Linked DNA regions of Homo sapiens. The protein of the gene in region 2 purifies or fractionates together with the protein of the main gene of each other region. This does not show direct contact. Each region holds a gene or a part of one and is shown on either strand. Other genes may lie near its edges.

Region 1 (3,713 bases), on a different chromosome or scaffold from region 2:
GCGGAGGCGGGCGGATCACCTGAGGTCAGAGTTCGAGACCAGCCTGGCCAAGTAGAGTTTGAAACCCCATCTCTAATACAAATACAAAAATTAGCCAGGCATGGTCATGGGCACCTGTAATCCCAGCTATTCCAGAGGCTGAGGTGGGAAAATTGCTTGAACTTGGGAGGCAGAAGTTGCAGTGAGCCAAGATCGCACCATTGCACTCCAGCCGGGGCAACAAGAATGAAACTCTGTCTCAAAAAAAAAAGGAAATCAGATCCACCTACTTATTCTCACCCTCTGGGGAAGGCAAAAGTGAGAGTGGAAATTATTTTCTTCATTTATCTGGGTAAACTGAGGCCCAGAAAGGTTTGGTGCCCTGTTCTAGCCTCCCTGTGAATCAGGGACAGAGGGGTGGCTGTCTGCAGCCCTGCCAAGGACTGCCGCTGCATTTTCCTCATTTGATGTTCACCCCCACACCCGCCGTGAGCAGCCACGGGGATAAGATCGCTCCCATCAATGTAGAAGGGATGCAGGCAGTGTCTGGAAGGGCTTACAGGGTCATCTATTATGAGAAAGAAAATGAACATAAAATGAGTTCATGTAGAAAACACAGAGGCAACAGGCCCCGGAAACATCCCTTGACTTTTGCCTGGGAATTGCCCTTTGGTCCACACAGAATCCACTGCAGGAAGAGGCCAGAAGTTTCTTCTCACCCTGTTGTCTTCTCTCTGTCCCCTCTGTCTTTTCCATCTCTACCCCTTTCCCGCCCTTATCCTTACTGTCCATTATCCTAGGGAACTCAGATCCTTCCGTCTGCAGAGTGAGGGCTCTACAAGAAGGCAAAACTTCTCTTGCTAACATGGACCAATTCTTACAGCAACGCTTCAAAATCGATTGATCTTACAAACTCTTGTCTATGTCCTTTACATAAAACCTTTTCCCCCAAGGAAGAGAGTAGGGCAGGGAGGTGAAGAGGAATGGAAACTCCACCACTCCACCCCGCTATACTAGATGAAGCAGCTGTGTCTCAGAAACAGGGCACTCAGGCTCTCTGGCTTCCAGGGATTAGAGAACAAGGCACAGATCAGCCCCTCCCCCAGAATCACAGGACCGCCAACTTGGCAGATGCATCCAAGGGCACCCTGACTCCTCTGCCACATGGATTGTAGGTCCCAGCGATGAGCAGCCCAATTAACAGTGATGTCAGACTGTTTGGGTCCAGATCATTCCTGAGCCATGAAACAGTTAAGAAATATCCTGCCCCACTGGCTGCCGTGCTCATAAAGGTAGACCCACGTGTACTTCCCTGTGGCTCCAAGAAGCGCCAGCTCGCTCATTTGCTCACACCCAGCAGGCAGAGAAGGCAGCAGCAGGCAGGACCGCCACCCTCCCATGCAAATCACCCCCGGGAGTGCAGCTGGGCTCCTCCCGCTCCTCCTGGGCAATGCTCCTGGGGAGTCTGTGGGGAAGATGCCATCCAGGGCGCTGTGCGCTCTTCCTCATCCTCGCCCTCCTGCTGGACGCGGTCGGCCTGGTCCTTTTGCTGCTGGGGATCTTGGCCCCCCTGAGTTCCTGGGACTTCTTCATCTACACAGGTGCCCTGATCCTGGCTCTCAGCCTACTGCTCTGGATCATCTGGTATTCCCTCAACATTGAGGTGTCTCCTGAAAAACTGGACCTGTAATTTGGCCATGGGAAGAGGAGAAGAGACGCAGGTGCTGTATGCAGACATGTCTGTGAACCTGGGGCTCTTGGGCAGCAACACGTTGCAGCTTCCACCTAGCAAGCCACGCCGGGACCAGGTGAGTGCACACAAGACCTACCTGGCAGGGTGGCCAGAGAGGCTTGGACAAGCAGGGGCAAGACCAGGCCTCCTGAGGCTGCATAAGCAAATAGCCAGACACTGCACCCTGACTGGGGATCCTGTGGCCCTGGCCTCAGGTCCTGCTGGGGTGGCCAGCCAAGAGGACGTGGGGCAGGTGTTTTCTCCTCCGGGCCCTTTTCCTCGCAGAGGCTGGAAAGAGAGTCTCAACAGCCCCTTCCACCCCTGATATACCACGAATGATCCTGGCTTCTGGGCACAATGGGAAGTTATCCCTTTACCTCGGAACTTGGGGACAAAAAGACCCCATCTGCATTCTCTGTTGGGAAGAATCTCTGCTGGGGAGAAAAGTCTTTAGCACAGGAGAGGACGGAAAGTTCCCCAATGACTCTTGTGCCCTTGCATACATGAAGGGGTGTGAACTGGGCCACGGTAAAAGCAAACAGAGCAGAACCACCCAGAACGGCCCCTCTCGTTCACTTCCTCCCTGCACCTGCCCAGATGGGATACAAGAAGCGGGGTAGGGACTACTCGCCTCCATGCCCACTCAGTGCACACACCTCCTCTCTCTGCAGTATTCCCACCCCACCCTCACTCACACTCACACGCAGCCAACACATGTGCCCAGCCAGTCTCCAAGGCCCAGAAGTCAAGACAGTTTGGCTTCATGGATTTCATCCGCTGAGTTGCATGTCACAGCTCAGTCTATCGCGTGCAACCAAAGAGGCAGAGAGTTGTAAGATTTTTTCACATCAAGACAGAGTCCCAGAGATAGAGTGGTCTGGTCCTTACAACCCTGAATTAGAGATGGACAGCTGTCTCCAGGGGACTGAAGTCAGAGCCACGGTCCATTGGGCAGCCATACCCTCCTCCCCAGGTGGGCCCAACCTGCACGCAGGTGTATCCAGGCACTCCCGTTTCTTACTCCCTTACCAGAAGTAAGAGCAAAGGTCGTTGCTGAGTTGAAAGAAGGAAATAATAATTGTGTCTTTTGTGGGGGATTACACCTGACTCTCAGAACTCAGAGAAAAGAGAAGCAAAATGAAGAGGTCTCAGTAGAGTAAGGTAAGCCCATACCTAGGAAATGATGTAGAAACAGATGAGAAGTCAGTCCCACTCTGATCTTCAGCACTTGTTAGCTGGGTGTTTTTGGCCAGGTTGCACACTCTGAGCCTCAGGATTCTCATCTGTAAGATGAAGAGAATATTTCTGGCCCTTATTGCTGCAAGGATCGAAAAGAGATAAGGCAGGGAAAGGCTGTACAATTGATGTGGTTCTTACACCAGATGTCAAGCATACAAAACACATAATCTGGGATGAGTTAACTGACCCAAAGTCCAAATGTGAAGTACCTTGGTGTCTCTCAAATTGGTAGTGATGGGGGTCAACTCACACTTTGCATCAGGAAACTTCAGAGCAAAAAGGGTCCCTGATTTGTGTGCTGGTATGTTGGAATGTGTCAGGCACTGTGCAAGACACTGGGGATAAGAAATGAGACACATGGACCAGGCACAGTGACTCATGCCTGTAATCCCAGCACTTTGGGAGGCCGAGGCGGGCAGATCACTTGAGGTCAGGAGTTCAAGACCAGCCTTGGCAACATGGTGAAACCCCATCTCCACCAAAAATACAAAAAATTAGCCACGCATGGTGATGCACACCTGTAATCCCAGCTATTCAGGAGGTTGAGGCAGAAGGATTGCTGGAGCCCAGGAGGCACAGGCTGCAGTGAGCAGAGATTGCACCACTGCATTCCAACCTGGGCGGCAGAGTGAGACCTGTCTCAATTAAAAAAAAAAAAAGACACATGACGTGGGGGCTCTACTCTCAGGGAGTTTACCATCAGGTGAGAAAGACAGACACTCACCAAAGATTCACACTTACAAAAGTACAATAACAAAGTCAG
Region 2 (3,648 bases):
CTCTCAGGATGAAGTAACCTTCCCGTTTTCTCTACCGTGCCCCATGGTGTGCCAGGTAAACAGGGATCTCCTAGCTGCCCCCGCTCCACTGCTCTCCTTCTGTCCACAAGGTGGAGGCCGCTCTTCCCCTGGGCCTTTCCAGAGGAAATTCCCCAGCTGGGCTCTTTCCAGCCCCACCGCCCTGGTCCCTGGTCCCAGCTGCCACCTGTCTCACGGGAAGGTCTGCAGTTGCTGCATGTGGCAGGGTTCCTAAGACCATCTACAGGCTCACCGGTTCCCTAGGAGCACTGGCAGGACTCAGCATATAGTTGTCCTCACAGCCGTGATTTATTGTGACGGAAGGACGCAAACACCATCAGCAAAGGGAAAAGGTGCGCGAATTCCCGGGCAGGCCAGGCCCAAGCTTCAGAGTTCTCTCCCTGTGGAGTCATACGGGACACACTTAATTCCCCCAGCAGAGGGTGCCCACCAAGGACTCCCTGCCCAGGCTTTTTACTGGGGGCTGGTCATGTAGTCACCCTCTGCTTGACACGTGTCAAAATTCTAGACTCCCAGAGGGAACGCAGGTGTTGTCATAAACCACATCATTTGTGTCAACAGCCTAGGCCTGGCATCTCCAGGCTGCACTCTGGCCCCAGCTCTGCACCTGGCACAAAGAGGCCCTTTTTGTTTGTTTTTGTTTAGGATCTCACTCTGTTGCCCAGGCTGGAGTGCAGTGGCTCAATCACAGCTCACTACAGCCTCAACTTCCTGGGCTCGTGATCCTCCCACCTCAGCCTCCCGAGTAGCTGGGACCACAGGCCCATGCCACCACACCTGGCTAATTTTTGAATTTTCTGTAGAGACAGGGTCTTACCATGTTGCCCAGGCTGGTCTCAAACTCTTGGGCTCAAACCATTCTACTGTTTCAGCCTCCCAAAGTGCTGAGATTGTAGGCGTGAGCCACCACACCCAGCCCACCCTTGGTTAATAAGAGCAGGAGGGCTGTGGGTCCCACTGCTTAGCCAGTCATGTGGGCTGAAATGTGCTCCTCAAGAATATGTGTTCCAGTCCTAATCCTGGACCTGTGAGTGAGCCCTTGTTTGGGAGTGGGGTCTGCAGATGTGATAAAGTTAAATGAGATCGTCTTGGATTAGGGTGGACCCTCAGTGTAATGATTGCTGTCCTTATAAGAAGTGGGGAATTTGGACACAGAAACACCAAGAAACATAGGGAGAAGACGGCCATGCGAAATGAGAAACAGGGACTGGAGGGACGGAGCCACAAGCCAAGGAACACTGGGACCACCAGAAGCTGGAAGAGGCGAGGAAGGATCCTCCCTTGAACTTTCAGAGGGAGTGTGGCCCCACCAAGACCTTGATTTCAGACTTCCAGCCTCCAGAACCGCAAGTGGATGAATTTCTGTTGTAAACCACCCAGTTGGTAGTGGTTTGTTGCGGCAGTCACGGGAAACCATTATACCATAGCCCTGTTACATGCGGAATCTCTCAGCAGCGCCCATTGGTGCTTGACACCCAGAGATGGGGGAGTGGGGTCCACTGGCCATGATGGGCACACTGGTTCATACCTGTTGACACCCCAGGCCATTCAGAAATGTCTCCAGCCTTAATTCATTGAGTTCAACCTTTAAGAGGCCTTAGGCCAACTCAGTCACCTCACTGCTCAGACAAAGAATCAGAGGCGTCAGCATAGCCAGAGGACACTGTGCACCTGGCAGCCCCCTGGGGCCACTCATGGCCCCTCCAGGGACTTGGCAGAGTTAACGCACCCTCCCCCAGATGCAGCCACCGCGTGCAATCCTCTTAGCTTCCGTATCCACCACCTGCCCGGATTGTCAAACTCTCTGTGTTTTCGTCGCCACCCATTGAACCCTGGAGAAACAAACCTGATTGCAGAAAATCGCACGCAGCTTGGAATGAAAAACTACAGAGTAGGAACAGCCTCCTAATCATATGGAAGAAGCCCAGAATAGAGGCATCGGCAGCGGATCCACGAGCCCTGAATGCCTGCATTCATCAGGGGAGCAGCTGGCGCGTTCTGGAGGCGAAACGAGCTTGCTTCCGTGTCGAAGCTTTTCTAGTTCTGTTTGATGCGTAAGCTTCAAGGCATCCGAAGCCCTTTGGAATTCGTGTCTTATGCGTAGAAGTTTGAGTGCAAAATGCTTTACAGGAAGCCATACACCAACGTTGGATATTCTGGTAAAAAAGGTTTCTGTGAGCACAATTCTATAATTTCTTTCTTCAGTGTTTTTTTTTTTTTTGAGTCTGGTTAAAATGGGAACTCTGTAGCCCCGAATGGTCTAATAGCAAAAAAATGTGAGCCCCCTAGGTGATGTGAAGTTTTCTAGTAACCATGTCAAAAGAGTAAAAAGAAATGGTGAAATTAGTTTTTCTTCCTTTTTTGGGGGGGAGGGGGTGGGGAGTGGGGGGTAGGAGGGACGAAGTCTCACTCTATTGCCCAAGCTGAAGTGCAATGGCGCTATCTCGGCTCACTGCAACCTCTGCCTCCTGGGTTCAAGTGATTCTCCTGCCCCAGCCTGCCAAGTAGCTGGGATTACAGGCATGCACCACCACACCCGGCTAATTTTTCTGTATTTTTAGTAGAGACAGGGTTTCACTATGTTGGCCAGGCTGGTCTTGAGCTCCTGACCTCGTGATCCGCCCGCCTCAGCCTCCCAAAGTGCTGGGATTACGGGCATGAGCCACTGCGCCCAGCCTTTTTTTTTTTTTTTTTTTTTTTTTTTGAGACAGAGTCTTGCTCTGTTGCCCAGGCTGGAGTGCAGTGGTGCAATCCCAGCTCACTGCAACCTCCACCAACCCAGGCTCAGGTGATCCTCCCACCTCAGCTTCCCAACTAGCTGGGACCACAAGTGTGCACCACCACATCTGGCTAACGTTTGTATTATTATTATTATTTTTTTTTTTCTGAGACCGAGTATTGCTCTGTCGCCCAGGCTAGAATGCAGTGGCCGATCTCATCTCACCACTGCAACCTCCACCTCCCGGGTTCAAGCAATTCTCGTGCCTCAGTCTCCCGAGTAGCTGGGATTACAGGCACCTGCCACCATGCCTGGCTAATTTTTGTATTTTTTTTTAGTAGAGATGGGGTTTCACCATCTTGGCCAGGGTATTCTCGAACTCCTGACCTCATGATCCACCTGCCTCGGCCTCCCAAAGTGCTAGGATTACAGGCGTGAGCCACCGTGCCCCCCTAATGTTTTTTTTTTATAGAGATGGGGTTTTGCCATGTTGCCCAGGGTGGTCTCGAACTCCTGAGCTCCAGTGATCTGCCTGCCTTGGCCTCCCAGAGTGCTGGGATTACAGGCATGTGCCACCATGCCCAGGTGAAATTAATTTTAATAAGATATTTTAGTTAACCCAATATATTAAAAACAACTTATAATTAATAGAAAATTATCAGGTGTCTCACAGTTTTTTGGGTAACTAAGGCCTTTGAGACAGTCTCTATTTGACACTTAGAGCGCACATCAGTTCTGACTTGTCACATTTCAAGGGCTCAGCACACGATAGATGGCACAGCCTTTGTCCCCATTCTAGATCTGCTGGCACAGAGCACATGTCCAGGAGTTGGAAGGATGGCTTAGAAGGATGGATTTAAGGCTCATGTCTTCATCGTGTTGCTTACCCC
Region 3 (3,648 bases), on a different chromosome or scaffold from region 2:
GGTACCGGGAGGGACTCGGGGCCTTCCCCACCCTGTGTGGAGCTCAGGCCTGCCCAGGCGGGGGCCCCGGCAACAGGGAGGGTACGTGTTGGCCGATGCCCGGGAAGTCAAGCTGTGGGGAAAGGCCGGAGGAGGCGGGTGCTGTGGGTGGGCACAGGGAGGACACCGTGGAGGGAGGGGACAGGTGTGCCAGAAAGGTGGGTCAGCAGGAGCTGGCGGGAGATGGAGCTGAGGCCACAGGCAGGAGAGGGGATGGTGTGAGGCTGGCCTGGCCCTCTCAGGGGCTCCTAAACCCACCCGGATTCCAGACTGCTACCGAGCCTGGGGCAGTGGGGTATGCCCCTCACACCTGTACTTCCCCGCCACCCACGGCGGGCCAAGGGCAGCCAAGGAGGCTGCAGCTCTGGGCCCTGCTCCTCAGCATAGCCCTCACCCAACACCTGGCTGCTGCGTGCTCCCGCCTGGGTGTGGGGCCTGGAGGTGGAGGGAGAACCGCCCGCTTCCCTGGCCCAAGCCTCAACACCCTACACTGCACCCCCCACCCCGTCAGGAGACTTCAAGCGGCTCAGGGCACCTGCCCAGGCCTGTTCCCAGACAAAGAAAAGCCACCACAGGCACGGCAGCGAGGAGCCCAGGCTCCGGGCAGGCGGCTCCTGTCTGGAGCCCCCACGTAAAGTGGGCAAGATCCCGGGCCCCACAGGGCTGTGCTGGCGACTGGCAAGATCCAGGCCGGCTCAGGGCTCTGGGCACGTCGACACTGGACAGGGCCAGGGCTGGGCAGAGGCCCCGCATGTAGGAGTGCCCACCCCAGCCTCCACCACGGGTCCAGTCTTGATCTGAAATAACTGAGCCAGGCCCTGTGAGGACGGTCTGGCTTAAGAAAAGGCGTCCAGCCTCTCACTGGCCCGGGCACGGCAGATGTGGGGCCCCAGGCCAGACCTGACCAGTGTGGCTTCGGGTGAGCCCCTCCCCTGGCTCGTCTCCTGTCTAGTGCCAGCCCATGGCTGACACCTGTGCCATGCACATGGATGCCATAGAACAGACATGGGCATGCTCAGACACCCACTAAGCTCTCCTCCGAGGTCTGATGTGCAGCCCTGCGGTTCGGCCACCAGGTAGGTATGCCCCCCGTCCTGCTGTAGGGAGGCGTCCTCGGTACCTGGGAAGGCGCGTTAACCACAGGCTCACACTGTCCCTAGAGATTGCTGGTGTGAAGGTACAAGCCCCAACAGACTGGACTGCCTTATCTCCCTGGCTTGGCACCTGTGGGCACCTGAATAGGGTACCTGTCCACTAATCCTGGGGCACTTGGCCCAGTGTGGGTGGCTGGTCTGCCCTGTTGGGGACATGCAGGGCTTCGTGGCACACGCTGGGAACAGCCCTCCTAGCAGTCCTGCCCCCCACAGGCAGTGGAGCCAGGCCGGAGGGTGAGGCCCAGCTGTGTGGAAGTACGACTCTCTGGGCGGCACGGCCAGGAGGAGCTGGGCAAGACCGGAGGCAGGGAGGCCAGGAGGAGCTGGGCAGGACCGGAGGCAGGGAGGCCAGGAGGAGCTGGGCAGGACCGGAGGCAGGGAGGCCAGGAGGAGCTGGGCAGGACCGGAGGCAGGGAGGCCAGGAGGAGCTGGGCAGGACCGGAGGCAGGGAGGCCAGGAGGAGCTGGGCAGGACCGGAGGCAGGGAGGCCAGGAGGAGCTGGGCAGGACCGGAGGCAGGGAGGCCAGGAGGAGCTGGGCAGGACCGGAGGCAGGGAGGCCAGGAGGAGTCCCGGTTAAACGTTCTAAATGAGCCTAAGAGATGGAGCCCAGGCCCAGGACAGGAGAGCGGGCTGGGAAAAGCACGAGCCTTCCAAGAAGTGCAGAGCCTGGGACAAGCAGCCTGGCCTGGCTTTACTGGGCAGTGGTCAATGCTGTAGCCAGATCTGGCCCTAAGAGGAGCGCTTCACCAGGCTTCGGTTTACTCATTTGTAAAACAGGTCTACAAAGACCCCTTCCGTCTGATGTGTTAACCAGACAGTCATGGGAAACGCTCCACAAGCCGGGTTTCCCCGTGTTCTAAGAGCACCCGGGTTCATGAGTGCTCTTAGGGTACCGGATGCCATTAACTGAGAGGGGTGTGTGTGGGCCTTTGCAGAGGGTGTCCGGGGAGAGGGGGGACACAGCCCGAGGCTGCCCACGAGGTGCACAGCCCCAGCACCTTCTCCCTCCTGGCCACCTTCACAGGAGGTCACGATTATTCCCTTTCTCTCCTGTGAAAAGGCCCGGGGACACCGGGGATGGGATGGGGGTGGGGGCATCTGTGCCTGAGGAGTGCTGTGGCCTGCCTGGCATGGGAGGCTTGGCGGTCCAGCAGGGACCCAGGCCATTGCATCACGCAGGTGGCCCTGTCGGATCAGGGCTCCCCTGGGCTCCGCTCGGTCCTCACGCTGGGGATGATGAGCTCCTCTCATGGAGGGAAGAGCAGCGACACAGCAAAGGCTGAGGACCACCTGGGAACCACGCTGAGCCACCTGGACAGGACAGGGCACAGGGAACTGTCTGGTCTGGTGAGGGGCTGTGTGCCAGGCAGCCTCCGAGAGGCCCGCTGAGCAGGACTGAGAAGCAGATGCTGGTGGGCTCTCCCGGGCCCAGCCGGAAACACCCTTTCAGGGATGTGGGAAGGAGAGGTCCAGGCCCTCTGAGGATGGTTCCCCAGAGTCTGTGTGCCAACCACCCAGGCGGTCAAAAGTGGCACAGAGAAGAAAAGATTCCTTCGGAGGGGCCCAACGAGTGGGTGCTTGGTACAGGCTCCAGGGCACGCTGGTGCCCGCTCCAGCTGGTAGGCGGGCTGCCACTCTGGGCACAGGAGCGGCTGGGCAGTTTCTGTGCCACCGACAGTCCCATGCCCCACTCTGACTTCTGCCCCCAAAACTAGACCTTAGGGCCCCTCCTCTGCCTCAGGCTGGGAGACCCTGAGAACAGGGGTGTCTGCTCCAAGGAGACCCTCCTCTACCCTCCATGTCCCGCTCCCCACCCAGCACAGCCAGGTATAAAGCCAGGAAGGCCTGGGGGTGTCCTCCGAGAAGCTATCCTGGGCCGGGAGCCAGCCGGGTTCTGTGGCTACAACAGGGAAACAGTTAGAGGTGGTCCCAGCGACCAGGGAGCTCAGGTGCCAAGGTGGGGCGCTGAGACCCCAGCAAAGGAGCAAACAGACACACATCACATCACATCAGACATCAGGAGGCCAGACAGGTGCTCTGGGAACACCTATGCCCAGACACAACCTTGCAAGCAAAAGCAGGAGGCCTGCTGGCACGCGGGCAGTGATTCAGCATGAGGGCTCCTGGCAGCGCAGGGGCACCCGGGGTGCCACTCGGCTCCGCCCTTGCCTTCTGTGCCGTGCCCTGGCATAAAGGGAGGGTGGCCGGGTGCCCTGCTGCAGTGCCACCGTCCAGCTGGTGGCACCCAGGCCTGCTTCCTTGCCCATAAAATGGGATGACCACTGCTGTCACTGCAGCCTGGCCTGGCTGTCCAGAGGACAAAGGAAGTCTCAAAAGGGAGCCCAATATGTCCCGACACTGCCCTCTTTCATGAGCTAAGTCTCCTGTCACCCACTGCCTTTTCTGGTCCCTGGGGCAGAGGCTGGGAAGGCCCGCCACACACCCAGGGCCAAC

Evidence for each region.
Region 1: the proteins of BRI3BP (region 2) and TMEM238L purify together in Homo sapiens (co-immunoprecipitation; one study listed by IntAct). This does not show direct contact.
Region 3: the proteins of BRI3BP (region 2) and GPC1 purify together in Homo sapiens (co-immunoprecipitation; one large-scale study listed by IntAct). This does not show direct contact.

Annotation. Positions count from the first base shown.
Region 1 is NC_000017.11:10,801,680-10,805,392, reverse strand, and holds the start of TMEM238L (transmembrane protein 238-like), read left to right. Parts: upstream 1-1,293; 5' UTR 1,294-1,429; coding exon 1,430-1,669; 3' UTR 1,670-1,787; intron 1,788-2,884; exon of another isoform or gene 2,885-2,994; intron 2,995-3,713.
Region 2 is NC_000012.12:125,014,110-125,017,757, forward strand, and holds part of BRI3BP (BRI3-binding protein precursor), read left to right. Parts: intron 1-3,648. UniProt on the Homo sapiens protein: Involved in tumorigenesis and may function by stabilizing p53/TP53.
Region 3 is NC_000002.12:240,438,648-240,442,295, reverse strand, and holds part of GPC1 (glypican-1 precursor), read right to left. Parts: intron 1-3,648. UniProt on the Homo sapiens protein: Cell surface proteoglycan that bears heparan sulfate. Binds, via the heparan sulfate side chains, alpha-4 (V) collagen and participates in Schwann cell myelination.